Homo sapiens: one gene and its partner. The protein of the gene in region 1 interacts with the protein of each later gene in a pairwise test. Each region holds a gene or a part of one and is shown on either strand. Other genes may lie near its edges.

Evidence for each region. The genes of interacting proteins can lie anywhere in the genome.
Region 2: the proteins of HSPG2 (region 1) and FGFBP1 interact in a two-hybrid assay, tested with the Homo sapiens proteins (one study listed by BioGRID).

The regions. Positions count from the first base shown.
Region 1 is NC_000001.11:21,934,294-21,942,222, forward strand, and holds the start of HSPG2 (basement membrane-specific heparan sulfate proteoglycan core protein isoform b precursor), read right to left. Parts: upstream 3,018-7,929; 5' UTR 2,925-3,017; coding exon 2,862-2,924; intron 1-2,861. UniProt on the Homo sapiens protein: Integral component of basement membranes. Component of the glomerular basement membrane (GBM), responsible for the fixed negative electrostatic membrane charge, and which provides a barrier which is both size- and charge-selective.
Region 2 is NC_000004.12:15,935,727-15,942,905, forward strand, and holds the start of FGFBP1 (fibroblast growth factor-binding protein 1 precursor), read right to left. Parts: upstream 3,015-7,179; 5' UTR 2,961-3,014; intron 2,746-2,960; 5' UTR 2,525-2,745; intron 927-2,524; 5' UTR 907-926; coding exon 202-906; 3' UTR 1-201.

The sequences.
Region 1 (7,929 bases):
CAGGCAAAGAGGGTCCAAGGTGTGCTGGGAGCCTGGGCTAGGAATTGATCTCATTTTTGACTTGCAACAAACTCCTCAACCCCATTGTACAGATTTGGAAACTAAGGCTCAGAGAGAGGAACTCGCCCCAGATCACACAGCCAGAAACCGCAGCCCAGAGACTCATACTTGGGTCTGTAAGACTTCAGAGACAGGCCAGGCATGATGGCTTATGCCTGTCATCCCAACACTTTAGGAGACCGAGGCGAGAGGATCGCTTGAGGCCAGGAGTTTGAGACCAGCCTGGGCAACAAAGTGTGATGCCCTCTTTTTTTTTTTTTGAGACAGAGTCTTGCTCTGTCGCCCAGGCTGGAGTGCAGTGGCGCGATCTCGGCTCACTGCAAGCTCCGCCTCCCGGGTTAACGCCATTCTCCTGCCTCAGCCTCCGGAGTAGCTGGGACTACAGGTACGTGCCACCATGCCTGGCTAACTTTTTGCATTTTTAGTAGAGACAGGGTTTCACTATGCTGGCCAGGCTGATCTTGAACTCCTGACCTCATGATCCGCTCGCCTCGGCCTCCCAAAGTCCTGGGATTACTGGCGTGTGCCACCGCGCCTGGCCCCGAAAAACTTTTTATTGTTTGTTTGTTTTGAGGCGGAGTCTCACTCTGTCACCCAGGCTGGAGTGCAATGGTGTGGTCTCAGCTCACTGCAACCTCCGCCTCCTGGGTTCAAGCGATTCTCCTGCCTCAGCCTCCCGAGTAGTTGGGATTACAAGCATGCGCCACCACACCCGTCTAATTTTTGTATTTTCAGTACAGATGGGGTTTCACTATGTTGGCCAGGCTGGTCTCAAACTCCTGACCTCGTGATCCGCCCACCGTGGCCTCCCAAAGTGCTGGGATTACAGGCATGAGCCACCGCGCCTGGCCTGAAAAACTTTTTAAAAAGAATTTTATAAAGAGACTTCAGGGGCCAAGCTCTTTCCAGCCCACCACCAGCAGCCTGGGGTGGGACAGCGACCCTCCATGTGTTGCTGAGAAGGCTCTCTAATCCCACAGGATTGGAGCTGCCTGTTTATTTGTCTAAATTACCGCCCACCAGCCTGTGAGTGCTGGGAAGGCACAGACAGGGCCTGTCCTTGCTGGTCCAACCCACCCCAGCCCCTAGCACCACACGAGGTTCACTGGTTCACTGGCACACAGTAGGTGCATGGCAAATATCTGCCCAAAGAATGAACCTCTGTACTCCCAGTGACTGCCATGGAATGTCGCTCAGTGATGATCTGTTGAATGAACAAGTGAATGAGATGATCTGCCACGGTCCAGGAATGTCTGTGGAAATTCCTCATGCACACAGCAAACAACTCCACCCACCGCCATCCTACCGCACCCGGGCATGGAGGAGCCCCTCATCGGGGGCAGAGCTGGGGGAAGGTCAGGAAAGACTGTTGGGCCTCGGAAAACATCCCACGTGCTAGGTTGGTGCGTTGGGAAAAGTAAAAGTCAGTGCCAGGAGTGCAAGTTCAGGTCAAGACTAGGGAGCTACTGGATGGCCCTGCTGAATATTTTGGGGTGAGAGGCTGAAACAGGAGGACGACAGAGGAGGCTGCCCAGAGTGGGGATGGGGGAGGAGAAGTGCTGGGTGGGTGGGGCAAGAGCAGTGAGGAGCCAGGTCTGGGTGGGGGCTTGACGAGTGACTCAGGAGGGTAGAGGTGCGATGAAGCCAGGAAGGTGAGGCCAGGCAGGCAGTTCCTGGGTAAACACCAGCCTGGTTAGAAAAGTCCCTCTCTTGGCTCAGAGAACAGGGAGGCAGGTATGGGGACTGCCTAGGAGCACCTCGGAGAGAGTGGGGGTGGCTCTGTGGCTCCCCACGGTAGGCTCGGCTCCCCAGATGTGCCCCCACCCACATCTGCCACTAGCTCCCTGCCCACCGACCCCACCCAGTCCTCCTCAAGTTCACTCAGGTCCTCAGGGCCTCTGCTGGCCAAGTGCCTTCTAAGCCTCGGGATTCCTGACCGTAGAATTCCCTTTTCCTCCACCTAAGCTCAGAGTAGGGGACTAGACTGCAAGGGCAGGCCTCTCCCTGCCTCTTGGAGACCTGGGAAGAGGAAAGCTGGGGAACTCGGGTCCCCCAAGGGTGCACTGCATCCCCGCACCACGCACTTTGCAGCTCATTCCACGCAGTCCAGCAACGCCCTGCAGCTATGCATTTTGAGGCCGTGCATTTTGAGTTCCCTTGACCCACGTGGGGCTGGCCTCAGAGAGGTTAACTAGCGTGCCCCAGGTCACACAGTTACTCAGTGAAAGGCAGGGATTGATTCAACTCTTCGGCTGTATGACTCCAAGGCCCGTGGGTGTTCCACACAAGCTTCAGTTCTGTCCCAAAAGTTTTGCTTGTGCCTACCTGGGTCCAAGCTCCCCAAGGTGATAGACGGTGTGGTAAAGTTTCAGCGAGACTCATAGGGTCCCCATCACCACTGAGTGGCCGTTCTGCCAAGCTGGCGCAGAAGGGTTCCCTCGTCCTGCCAAGTTCCCACCCTGCTCAAAGTTTCCCCTCCTGGTCCCCAGGAATGGTAGGCCGGACCATGCCCAGCGAGACTCCAGCACTCGGCAACGTGGCCGAGAGACCCACGGGCTCCCACACGGGCCAGCCCCGCCCCCAGCCCCACGAAGGGTCCTGACTGGTGGCCCCCCTGGATTAGCCCCATGCCGCAGGGTGGCGCCGGCCCGGGGTCCCCGGCGGGCGCCGCCGTCCCGGGCCAGAGTCCCCGCCGCGCAGCCTTGGGCGCCCCAGCCAAGTTGGCGGGAGGCGGCGAGCGGGACCGGGGCGCCCCTAGCCCCTCCGCCCCCGCCCCCCGCCCCTCTGCCCCGCACACTCACCGCCAGCAGCCGCCCGTGCAGCAGCAGCGCCAGCAGCAGCGCGCCCGCCGCCCGCCACCCCATGGCCCGGCCCGCGCCGCTCTCTCGCTCGCTCGCTCCGCGCCGCCCGCTCCGCGCCGCCCGCAGCCGCCCGCTCGCCGGCCAGCTCGGGACAGCGCGGCCCTCTCCCCACCGCCCCCTTTCCTCCCCGCCCGCCCCGCCCCCGCAGCGCCGGCCCCGCCCCCGAACCGCCCCTCCCCGGAGCGCCAGGCCCCGCCCACGGACCGCCCCCGGGCCGCGGGCTCTGCTCGCCCCAGCCGGCCGCGCAGCCTACTAGGCCTTTGTCTGGGCCCCCAGCCCCCTCCGCGCGGGCCGCGGCCCGGCCCGGCTCCCCGCCAAACCCGGCCTGGAGTATGGGATGGGACGGGGCGGGGGACCGGGGGCCCGGGCCCGGGCATGGGATGGGGCCGCCGGGCCAGGCGCTCTCGCCTCCCCGATCCCCGGCTCCCCCGCTTCCCCGCGCGCGCCGCCGACTTCCACGCCCCTGCACGCCCCGCACGGCCGACTCCACTCGCGCAGCTTTTGAAGATCCCGGGATCTCCTTCCCACGCTCACACGCACGCAGCTGCCGCTCCGCGCCACACGTGCACGCCAACTTCCACACCCAAGAACACCTTCACACCATAACTTTACTGCACGAACACACTTGTGCGCTACCCGGGAACACTTTCACACTCTGGACCCAACTCTGAAGTACCAACAATCCTCACCGGCTCACATGCACACTTAACTCGCTTCCAAACTCTCACCTCCACCAGGGACACAGGAGACAGCCCTCACACCACACTCAGCCCCTCACTCACGCATACATCCCAACAAGTCACGGAGCGGGAGGACGCCTTTTCACATAGATTCCTCGCAGGCACGCACATTTCACACACAGGCCCACATCATTGCCTACATGCTTACCAGCTTGTTTTTTTTTTTTTTTTTTTTTTTGAGAAGGAGTCTCGCTCTGTCCCCAGGCTGGAGTGCGGTGGTGGGATCTTGGCTCACTGCAACCTCCGCCTCCGGGTTCAAGCAATTCTCCGGCCTCAGCCTCCTGAATAGCTGGGATTACAGGCGTGCCACCACGCCTGGCTAATTTTTGTATTTTTAATAGAGATGGGGTTTTTACCATGTTGGCCAGGCTGGTCTCGAACTCCTGACCTTGTGATCTGCCCGCCTTGCCCTCCCAAAGTGATGGGATTACAGGCATTGAGCCACCGCACCCAGCCTCAGCCTGTATCTTTTACCTGTTCTCACCCACTAATCACAGTGCCTCATAGTGGGCACTGGGTACTGAACTGAGCTGCCCACCCCACCTGCACCATTTTCCATGTAAATCACTCACACACCAACTTTGAGTCACATAAATCACAGCCCCAGAGCCAGAACCACACCAACTCACACACTCAGGCCCAGACAGACAGACCCTGCCAAAGCCCCATCACAGATGCTCGGGTGGGTGGTAAAATCACAGCCCCATGATCTGTCTCTGACCCAACCGCAGGCAGCAAACAGCACCAAGCCCCCAGACCTATTCACTGCCTACTCTTCAGCTCCCCTCTTCTGCCTGAAATTTCCAGGGCAGCCCGAGGCTGATGGGTGGAGAGGAAAACTATGTGTGTGTAGCTTTGAGGAAAACCTTTTGAGTAATGATAGAGGAGGAGAATAAAACTGAAGTTTCCATTGTTTCCTGTGAGAGTTGCTAGGTTCCAGAAACTCATGGCTGGGTTTGCAGCCAGGAGTGAGGTGAGCTGTGGACAGAAGGAAATGCCCAGCTCACTGGGCGGCACCAGGCCTGGCTCCGGAAGCTATGTTCCCTGTGATAGGGGTCCGCAGGCTCCCAAGCACATTGGGGCCTCTCATCCAGGCATCTGGGGGATTGAAAAAACACTGGCATCCTGACCCCCATCCCAGATAGATCCCCTATCTCCAAAAGATATCTCCAAAATATGCCCTGTGGGGCATATTTCTGTGGGACCAGCTCAGAGTTGTAAAGAACAGAAATTGCATCCACGGTAGTCAGGCCAACTGCCTGGCCCCAACCCAGGCTCCAGGCACAGCACTGAATAAGGTCTATCTCTGATCCGCACAGGGAGATAGGGGTGGACAGAGGAGGGACGCCCAATCTTGGCCCTCAGTAAACTCTTAATCTGATAGAGGTGTGGGGAAGAATAGTCCCTGTCCGGGTATTGTTCTCAGTCTGATAGAGAATCCTGCCTCCACCACCTAGCCGTGCAATCTTGAGCACATGATTCAACTTCCATGTCTCAGTCTCTGCATGTAGAAAATGAGAATAACGTTAAGACGTCTCTCTTAGTGTTGTTATGAGAATTAAGATAAATTAATATATTTCTTTTAAAAAACACAGCCATTTCAGACACTTGGTAAGCATGAAATAAGTGGTAGCCATTTCTCTTATTACTATTTCTGGTGTGCTCCCAATCTAAAGAGAGAGACATGACTTGGCCCTTGGGGAGCTGAGGTCTGATAGAGGAGCAGCCTCCACAGCCACCCCAGGGACCTCCCATTTGAGGGGAGAGTACACCAGGTTTGCACTTGGAAACTCCCTGTCCGATGAGAAAGGCTTCAAAACTCCACTGACTTCAGAGCTGGCAGGTGGCCAGCCCTAGTGGCAGGATTTTTCCAAGGCCTTGCCTGTCCATGGATTTGTCAGCATCCGTGACAAATCGCATTTCATGAGCTGCCTCAGTGTCTGTTCCCTACCTCGGGCCCTTTAAGTACCAGAGCTTTGGCTTCTTGGATGATTTGCTCATGAGCAAAGGGGGAAAAAAAGGGAAACAAGCAACCCTTTGTAGATGTTTGGTCAAGACTAACCCAGAGCTATAAGTCTTCCTTCCTCAAAGGGGTTGAGGAAAGAGATGGTAAGGCCGACTAGGGACTGGAAGGAGCTGGGCTGACACGCAGAAAGCAGGAATATATGGCATGTTGAGAAAGTCTTCCAGGGCGGCTCCAGCAGCGGAGGATTGGTCATCCACCTATTTATTCTGTGTCCTCTCCTTCCCACTAAGGGATTTGCCTGGGTCTGTTTTAGTTTGCAGTCCTTGATATCTTTAGCAAATGCTCTCAAGTTGCTTTGTCTAGAGCCTGGCTATCTCCTCATATGGCTAAGAAGAGGAGCAGGCACAAGGCCTTCTGGGCTTGGCAAAACCTTGGAGGCGCCCATAATCTCACTGTATGTACACAGAGTTCAGGGTGCTGGTCACACTCGAGGAGAGAAACAACTCAAGTCTCATACAAGGTTCCCTGGGCACGGAGAGACTACAACAGCTTGGATAGGCAGAAATAGTCAAACAGCTTGACTTCTGAGAATAGGTGTTGGGGGTTCTGGAACCAGCAGCTGGAGTTTGTGGCTTACCTGTCCACTCCTCCAAATTCAGTAGGACTCATCTTCTGGCTTCCACTCCCATTCCAAATCTTTTCTCTGCCTGAGAGCTTATCATTCATCTTAATCACATTCCTTTGTCCATTCATTCATTCATTCAGGGCTGCAGTGGACAGTTGCGCAGGTTGTTCACTGAACAAAGGTGTGCAGCCAAGTGGGTAAATAGGAACTGTAATGGGCCCTGTTGTGGGGCTACATCTGCCCAGAATGGGTACTTTTTTTTTTCTTTTTGAGACAGAATCTTGCTCTGTTGCCCAGGTTGGAGTGCAGTGGCACGATCTCAACTCACTGCAACCTCTGCCTCCTGGGTTCAAGCGATTCTCCTGCCTCAGCCTCCCAAGTAGCTGGGATTACAGGCACATGCCACCACACCTGGCTAATTTTTTGTATTTTTAGTAGAGACAGGGTTTCATCATGTTGGCCAGGCTGGTCTCGAACTCCTGACCTCAAGTGATCCACCCGTCTCGGCCTCCCAAAGTGCTGGGATTACAGGCGTGAGCCACTGCACCCGGCCCAGAATGGGTACTTTTTGCTGATATGAGTGAAGGCACTGTAAGGCTAGCTGTGGCCCTATATTCATTCAATAGTGAAACTAAACACTGCCCACGAGAGTTTCTATGTCCATGTGGGAAAACAAATGCTAATAGAGTAACAATATGTCCTTGGGTGAAAATGAAGAGTCAGAAATTGGTGTGAAAGAGAATTGAGATGGAGGAGAAAAAACAAGAAGATAGTACTGAAGAAGAGGAGGAAGAGGAGGCAGGAGGTGGGTCTAAGCAGGCAGCAAAAGTTCCCATGGAGAGGGCGGGGACCCCACAAGGCCTGGCATGATCTAGTCCTGCCCATCAATCCAGCCACAGCCCTTCCCCACCATAGTCTTTGCAGATGCTGTTCCCTCTCCTAAGTGCTTTTCCCAGTTAACACCCATCCCCCTTCACTCTACTCTCCCTTAAGATTGAGTCCAAACATCACATGACCACAGAAATCTTCTCTGACCTCCCAAGCGAGGTCGTGTTCCCCACCACACTTTCCCACAGCGCCCCCCCCGCCATGCTTTTCTTGTAGCATTTTTGACCATTGTAATTATTTGGAAGATCATTTAATATTATGAGGCATAATGAAGGCAGAGGGCATGAAGGTCTTGTTTCTGTCTTGGTCCCAATTATATCCCCTGTGAAGAGCACAGTGTGTGGCACAGAGTTGGCATTTGGATAATTGTTACTTAAATGAAAGAACAAGACATTAGTTCAAACGTGGCACACAGTGTAAATGTCCCTGTTCTGGTTTGTGCTTGGAACAAAGATAAACCCTGGGGAGCAGGCAAGGCAGTACATTTTATTATTCCCCTCCCTTTCCAGCTGGGAAAACTGAGGCCCAGGGGATGAAGTGGCTTGCCCAGGTCATGCAGTCAGTAAGAGGTAGAACCAGGATTCATGTCCATGTCGGTCTGATTCTACAAACTCCCATTCTCAACCACACCCATTCTGCCTCCCTGTGGGCTGTTCTCAACTCTGGCCAGGCACAAGTGCGCTTCTCCCAGCTCAGGCAGAAGCGTGAATCTTCTGAAAGCTCTTGTATTTGACCCCCTGCCCCAACTTGATGTTTCCCCACTACCCTTCATCATTATCAATTGCTTTC
Region 2 (7,179 bases), on another chromosome or scaffold:
CAGCCTCTGAACATCGCATCCAAGAAAAATAAGGCAAATTCCAAAACACAAAAGCAAAAAATACAAAACTTGTTTAAATATTTCGTTGCACTCACTAAGCACAAAAGTTCATATTTTGGGGGGACTGTAGAGAGCTTTAAAGTATACAGAGGGACTTACGACATGACATCTCTTAAGGGAACCCGTTCTCTTTTGACCTCATTAGCATGACGTGTCCTGCACTATGCTGAGGAAGAATGTGCAGAGAGAGCTCCAAGTCTCTCCACAGAACTCCAGGGCAGTCTTCCTCTGGTTTGCCATATCTGGGTCCTCCACACACTCGGGAGCTTTGGTGGCCATGGTCTGGGTCACTGCTAGGCTAGAGGGGGTGGTCTCTTTGCCTTTGATGTGCTCCCTGGGGGACATCTCTGTTTTCTCCTTCCTGGGCTTTGTGTTCCCAAATAGAGTGGAGCTGACTAGCTTAAGACTGGATTCTGGAAAATCCTTTCTGCACACTCTGGTTTTCACAGCTGTCTTGGAATATCTACAGATGTCTTTCTGTGAGCGCAGATTCCGGGCAACTTGTTTCCAATAGACTCTCTCATCCTTGAGCTTTAGGCATGAGGTTGGATTGCCAGCAAAGACACAGGAAAATTCATGGTCCAATTGAGTGCACTCAACCTTGAGAGAGATGCCCTCCTCCTGCTCAGTAGCAGCCCATCTGCAGTTGGCTTGGTCTTTGGTGACAAACTTGCCTTTGTTCCCGGGCCTGCTTTTCTGCTTAATCTGGGTGTTGCCCAGAGTGTCCTTTTGTTCTGAGACCACTTTGCTGTGAAGTCCATTCTTCACTTTTTTTTTCCCCTCCACCAGGAGCACCTGAGCAGCCAGTAGGAGGAAGGAGAGCAGGGTGAGGCTACAGATCTTCATGGCTGCAGCTGGGCGTTCACCTGTTTGACAAAAGGCAAGTGAGTCAGTGGCAGGCAGCAGTTCAGCTGTGCAGGACTACACGCTGGCCTCCCCCTACCCTGACAGGTGCCTACATGATTTCAGAGTAGACCAAGAACGCTTCTGGCTCCTGGAGTCACTAGACAAACAGCCTGTCTACTCACATTTCCACTTGACTTGAGTCTTGAGTGTCACAAAAGTACCACTCTTTGGAGCCTCACGAACTCTCATTTATCATTTATTCACTCATTAACTCCTGCATCTGCTCACTCCTCACTCTTTCATTCACTCATTCAACAAGCATTTACTGAGCACCTACTATATGCCCCCCACCAGACTAGGTGTTGAAGAAATCACCATGATTGAGAAAGCCTCAGATTTGAAAGAGCTTAGAGACCACTCTTTGGGAGAATTTAAATAGCATTGATCAGGGAATCTATCCCGTCATCTCTGTTTCTGATATGAAACAAGTTACTGCTCCAAACTTTCAGCTCCAAAGGGCTGGATTTCTATCTCATGACTCCATATGGACACAGATGCCCAAAATGAGAAAAGACATGACAGATGCCCAAAATGAGAAAGGATGTGGTAAGCATCATGAAAGGTGATGTTGACCCAGAGTTGAACATGCCTGGGGTTTGGGTGGGGTGGGTGGGGTTGTGGGGGTGGGGGAGCTTTTTGTGGGGAAGTAAGAGTTTAAGGAAAGGTGTGAGGTGGGGTGGTTGTCTGATTTGCCTGGGCAAAGTGAATCAGGGTGGAGAGAGGTGAATTTCAACCAGATAGTTCACACTACAAGATCGAAGACAAGGATCATGAGAAATCATTGAATCAATAGGATGAACACCAACGTCACACTGAACTGCATGAATCTGATCATGTGTACAATAAAAACCCATGCTTAACAGAAGAAGAGAAGTCAGTTTCTATATGACACCTCCTGTGTGCTAAGTACTGGTCTAGGGTTTGATTCCCACCTTGTGAAATCCACACAAGAGCTCTTCCAGGTAGCTATTAATATGTCATCCCAGGTGACAGCTCTGACTCTTAAGGCTCAGACAGGTAAGTAAATTGCTCAGGATCTCATAGTGGGCAAGTTCAAAGCTGGTATGGGTAGCCAGATCAATCTCCTTATTCCTTTCTGTCACCCCTGGTTGATCACTTTTTGCTTTTCACATTTACTCTGCCCTTTAAAAACATTGCCAAAGAATAAGAAAAACAACTATGAACAATGACAATTTAGTTTCATATAACACATAATGATAAGATGATTTGTATTATTTGTGCTCCATTTAAAACAAAACACAGAATTTTTTATAAAAAGAGGCAGACCCAGGAAATGGTCCTGATCTGATTTCTACCCTAGAAGTTGGCCATCTTCTAGGGTTAAGAAGGAGAAAGACAATCACAAAAGGGCAGAGAACAGCAATAAATGGTGAAGAGGAGACTGGATATGCCAGAAAAACACCCAGTCATTTCTCACGGCCCTGGGGCTCAGCCCCCACCTGCCCATGATGGAATGCAGGCCCAAGGAACTCCAGGCCCTTGGTGGAGTGAGAAGTGGCAGCAGGTAATAAAGCTGTTAAAGGAGCGAGGCTCTTACCTTGTTCTGAGCACACGGATCCAGTGCAATCCCAGGCAGTGCGAGTGAATTGCAGGCTGCAGCTGTGTCAGGTAGAGTGCAAGGGGGGTAGACTATTCAACAGGAGCCAGGCTGACTGGGTTTTTATAACACTCACTGGGTTTTTACAACACTGTGGCACGTTACTCACAGCTCCTCCCAGCCACGCCCCTCCGAGGGAGCCGGTTCCTGCAGGGAAAGTGCTGGATGTAATCCAGTGAAAAGGGGGGTTACCTGCATGCCATCAAACGCTTCCTCTAGGCCCTTCCCTGTCCACCCTGTGGCCAGGATAGGAGGACAACTCAGCCTCACAGTGACCCTCCTTGATGGGGAGAGGACCCCAGCAGTGATGTCTATGGAGGAGTAAAATAACTATAATGACATGATCCGAGCTGCCAAACTACTGAGCCCATTTTACCTGAGTTCTCCTTTTCCCTCATCACATCCGCTCTAGTAGGGAGTGCAATGATTCCTCCCCTTTTACAAAAGCAGGAATTGGTTCTGGAGATATGTAAGAGCTTGTCCAAGTTCACAGAGGCAGGAAAAGGAACATCTCAAAATTAAAAGTGAGATTCTCTACATCCATGGTCTGATCTCTTCCTGCCTGCCACTCTCAATAAATCTTTGTTGAATGGGTGACTGAAGTTGCCGAAGTTTTCGTAGTGTCTGAGTTCCTTTTTCCATCTGAAGTTACTACATAAGCAGAGGATACCCTAATTCTAGAGGCAGGGAAATTTACATTAAAAATTCCCTCTTTTTTATCAGGGAATTCTACCAGGCTCTGAGAGGCTGGTAAAGAGGGAATTTTTAATATAAGATTACTGTTGTAAATACTTACCTTCAGGTCTCATTCAGAGAGCTCAGGCTGCCCTGCCTGCTACAGGCACAGTCCCACACCAGAATGACCCAGGTGGAATCCTGGCCACAGCATGTGTTTAGCTGAGTGCTATGCCCAAACCACTTAGCCTCTCCCATCATCCATTTGCAGTGTGCTGACAATAACAACGTCTCCTTTATAGCTGCATACTAAATTTTTACTGGGCTAAGCTGTTAACATAAAGTGGAGCAGAATCGTTTTGCCTCATGACAGGGTCTTAAGTTGTATACTTTGAAAACAGACATTTGTTATTTACATATGCAGCATTTAAAAAGAAACTCACTTCTACAGGGAAGATGTGGCCCTCATTATATATTATCACCTCACCTTTCATAGATTTTCAGAAGAAGAAATTGTTCACTTTTCCTTAATTCAGCCATAAGAAAACTATTGTTTAGTGTGATATTAAATGGCAACTGACTTTTGGGTTTGAGATAAGGCAATAGGGAGTGATGGGGACTGTGGCAAACTAGAGAGTCTCTGCCTCCATAGAGGTCAACACTCATCTCCAATTGACTGAGAAAATGCAGGGATTAGGCTCAGTATTGTCACACTGTCTGATTTTTAAAATGACATCCCCAAATCCAGATGTGTTTATATGAAATTGGTTGGCAGCTAATTAAAATTTTCTAAAAATAAAGCTGTAGCTCAACACTATGCAGGCCAAAACTTGTAACTGTGTTTGGATTTTATGAACGATCCACCTGTTTGAGAATTCCGTGGTCATAGCTATAGATGTTGACCAATTTACTCAGAGGCTCAGTCTCTGCATGAATCTGTTGGAAGAAGCCATTTCTGAAGCTGTGTGCCTCTCTCCTAAAATTGCCTCACCCAGGGGTCCGTCCTCACTATCCTCACAAACACCCCGCTGAGGCCCTGACCTCCACGAACAGGCTCTCTCATGCGGTATTTTGGAGGATTATTTGGACATAGGCAAGGCAAAGCTGCTTTGCTCAACAAGGGGAGTCTCCTACAAAATGGAAAATTCTACTTGATCCTTGGGAGGCAGGCAGATTCTTTCTGGAGGCAGATTGCAGTTGGAACACAAAACATATTTACAAGGAAACATGTGGACTCCGGGGTCTTTCTGGGAAGTGCTTCTCTGAGCTTTGCCAGGTAACACTGCACATTCCCCACTGGCTCCTTGTGGCCCTTCCCCTTCCTGTGACTCCCATCCCAGCGTCTGCTTTGCTCTTTCCCTTCTAGACTCAGCAGCACAGCATCAGAGCAGGCTGTGGGGCAGTCACCTCCTTGGCTCATCCTGCCCTTCCAACCTCATTTCCAGGTACTCACACGCAGACACATAAATACACATACACACTGACACACATACAAAGACACACACAAACACACACTGACACACTCAAACACACACAAACACACTCAAAGACACCACACTCATAGACACACAGAGACACACACATACTGACACCTAGACACATTCACACACATACTCATAGGCACACACACACAGAATCACACACAGTGACACTGACACACACACAGAGACAGACACACACACACATGCACACACACACTGCAATCTGGCCACACTGAAACCCTGTCCCACCATTTGCAGATACTCCATGCATGCGCCCACTTCCTGCCTTTGCCTCTGCTGTTCCCTGCACTTGGGATCCCCTTCCCTTCCTTCTCTGCCTGGCACACACCGCCTCATCCTTCAAGGCCAGGCTCCAATGCGAGCCCCTCTCTGTTGGTGTCATTGGCTCCTGACGCCCTGCATGCCACCCACATCTTTAAGAATGTCCACGGGGAGAAATGGCACACTTCCTCCAATGAGCTTACAGCGTGCCAGGCACTGTGCTAAGGCTGTTTCCCAAGCTTTCTTCGTATCTCCATGAACTAAGGAAACGATGTCCTTTTCCAGTGGCTCTGGGGAGACTGCAGAGGACATGGAGCCCCAGCCACGCAGTGCATAGCAGGTTCCAGTAACTTCAGGCCCCTCCACCTCCCCATGCTCCCAGCACTGAGGGGCTCTGTAATTCTTGGGGATGAGTACATAAAGGCCCATTGCACAAGAACCCCAGGAGGAAAGTCGGCCCAGGTCCTCATGGGACAGATGTGGAGGCAAGGCTTAGGGGGACTAAGCACAGTGTCTGACACACAATTAGAGAAGAATTATCTGGAGGCCGCTGCTATCATTCTAAACACAAATGAGGCAGTGTACGCATACACTGATAAATTGTGGAATTCTCCTCTCTTTGCCCCTTCATACCTTCCCTTTAAATTTTTTTTTAAAGTTTTAGAATAATTTTAGGTTTACAGAGAATTGCAAAGATAGTTATCATTCCAATTCTCACCTGGGTTCCCTATTTACCTGTTACATTACTATGGTACGTTTGTCACAACTGACAAACATTGATACATTATTGTCAATTGAAGTCCATACTTTATTCAGACTTGCTTAGGATTTACCTGTTGTTCTAGTTTTTATTATTATTATTATTATTATTGACAGACTTTATTTTTTAGAGTAGTTTTATGCTCATAGCACAATTGAGTGGAAAGTATCAAAAGTCCCATATACCCCTCCCCACACGCAGGCACAGTCTCCCCTACCTTCAACATCATGAACCAGGGTAGTACATTTGCTGTAAGTAATAAACCTACATTAACATGTCATTATCACCCAATGTCCATCATTTCCATTAGGTTCACTCTAAGTGCTGTACATTCTTTGGGTTTTGAGAAATGTATAATGACATGCATAATATCAATTAACTAAGAAAGGTATAATGACGGTACCCACCACTATGGTATCATACAGAATAGTTTAGCTGCCCTAAAAATTCTCTGTGTTCTGCCTACTTACCACTCCATCCCCTACAACCCCAGGCAATGCTCATCCTTTTGCTGTCTCCTCAGTTTTATCTTTTTAAGAATTTCAAATAGTTGGAATCACACAATATGTAACCTTTTATATTGACTTTTTTACCTAGTAATATGCACTTAAGGTTTCTCTATGTTTTTCATAACTTGATAGCACATTTCTCTTAAGTGCTGATAAAATTCCAAAGATTGGATATATCCAAGTCCCTTTATTCATTCACCTACTACTAAAATTCCATTGATTGGATGTACCCGAGTTCATTTGTTCATTCATCTAGGACATTTTGGATGCCTCTAAATTTTGACAGTGATGAATAGAGCTGCTATAAACATGCATGTGCAGGTTTGGTGTAGAATTAAATTTTCAGCTCCTAATGTTCTTTTTCTGTCCAGGATCCCAACATGACACCAGGTTGCATTTAGTGATCGTGACTTTTTGGGTTCTTCTTGGCTATGGCTGTTTCTCAGATGTTGCTTGTTTTTGATGACTATGGCAGTTTGCAGAAGAATTGGTTAGGTGTTTTGAGAATGTCCTTAATTTGGAAATTGTCTGGCATGTTCTGGTTAGATTGGGATCATGTTATTCTTCTCATGATCACACAAAACTTAAATGATGAATACTTTCTTTGGGATTGTGAAAGGAAGTCTGAACACAATTGGTAAAAACACACTGGCTAAGGCTGGTAATTGAATGCATGTCTGGTCACCAGCTGGGGATTTGAAGTTCAAAAGCTGATTTTACTCTCATGCCTGTTACTACCACATAGCTTCTTGACCTAGAGGCCTGGCCCTACTTATGCAGTCACCAGAGATTATTCATATAATGGGTGCAATTTGGTTCTGAGGTAAGTCTTAACTGTGCCAAACTTATTGCCAGGCCAAAGTTGTCAAAAATCAACCCTTCCTTCAA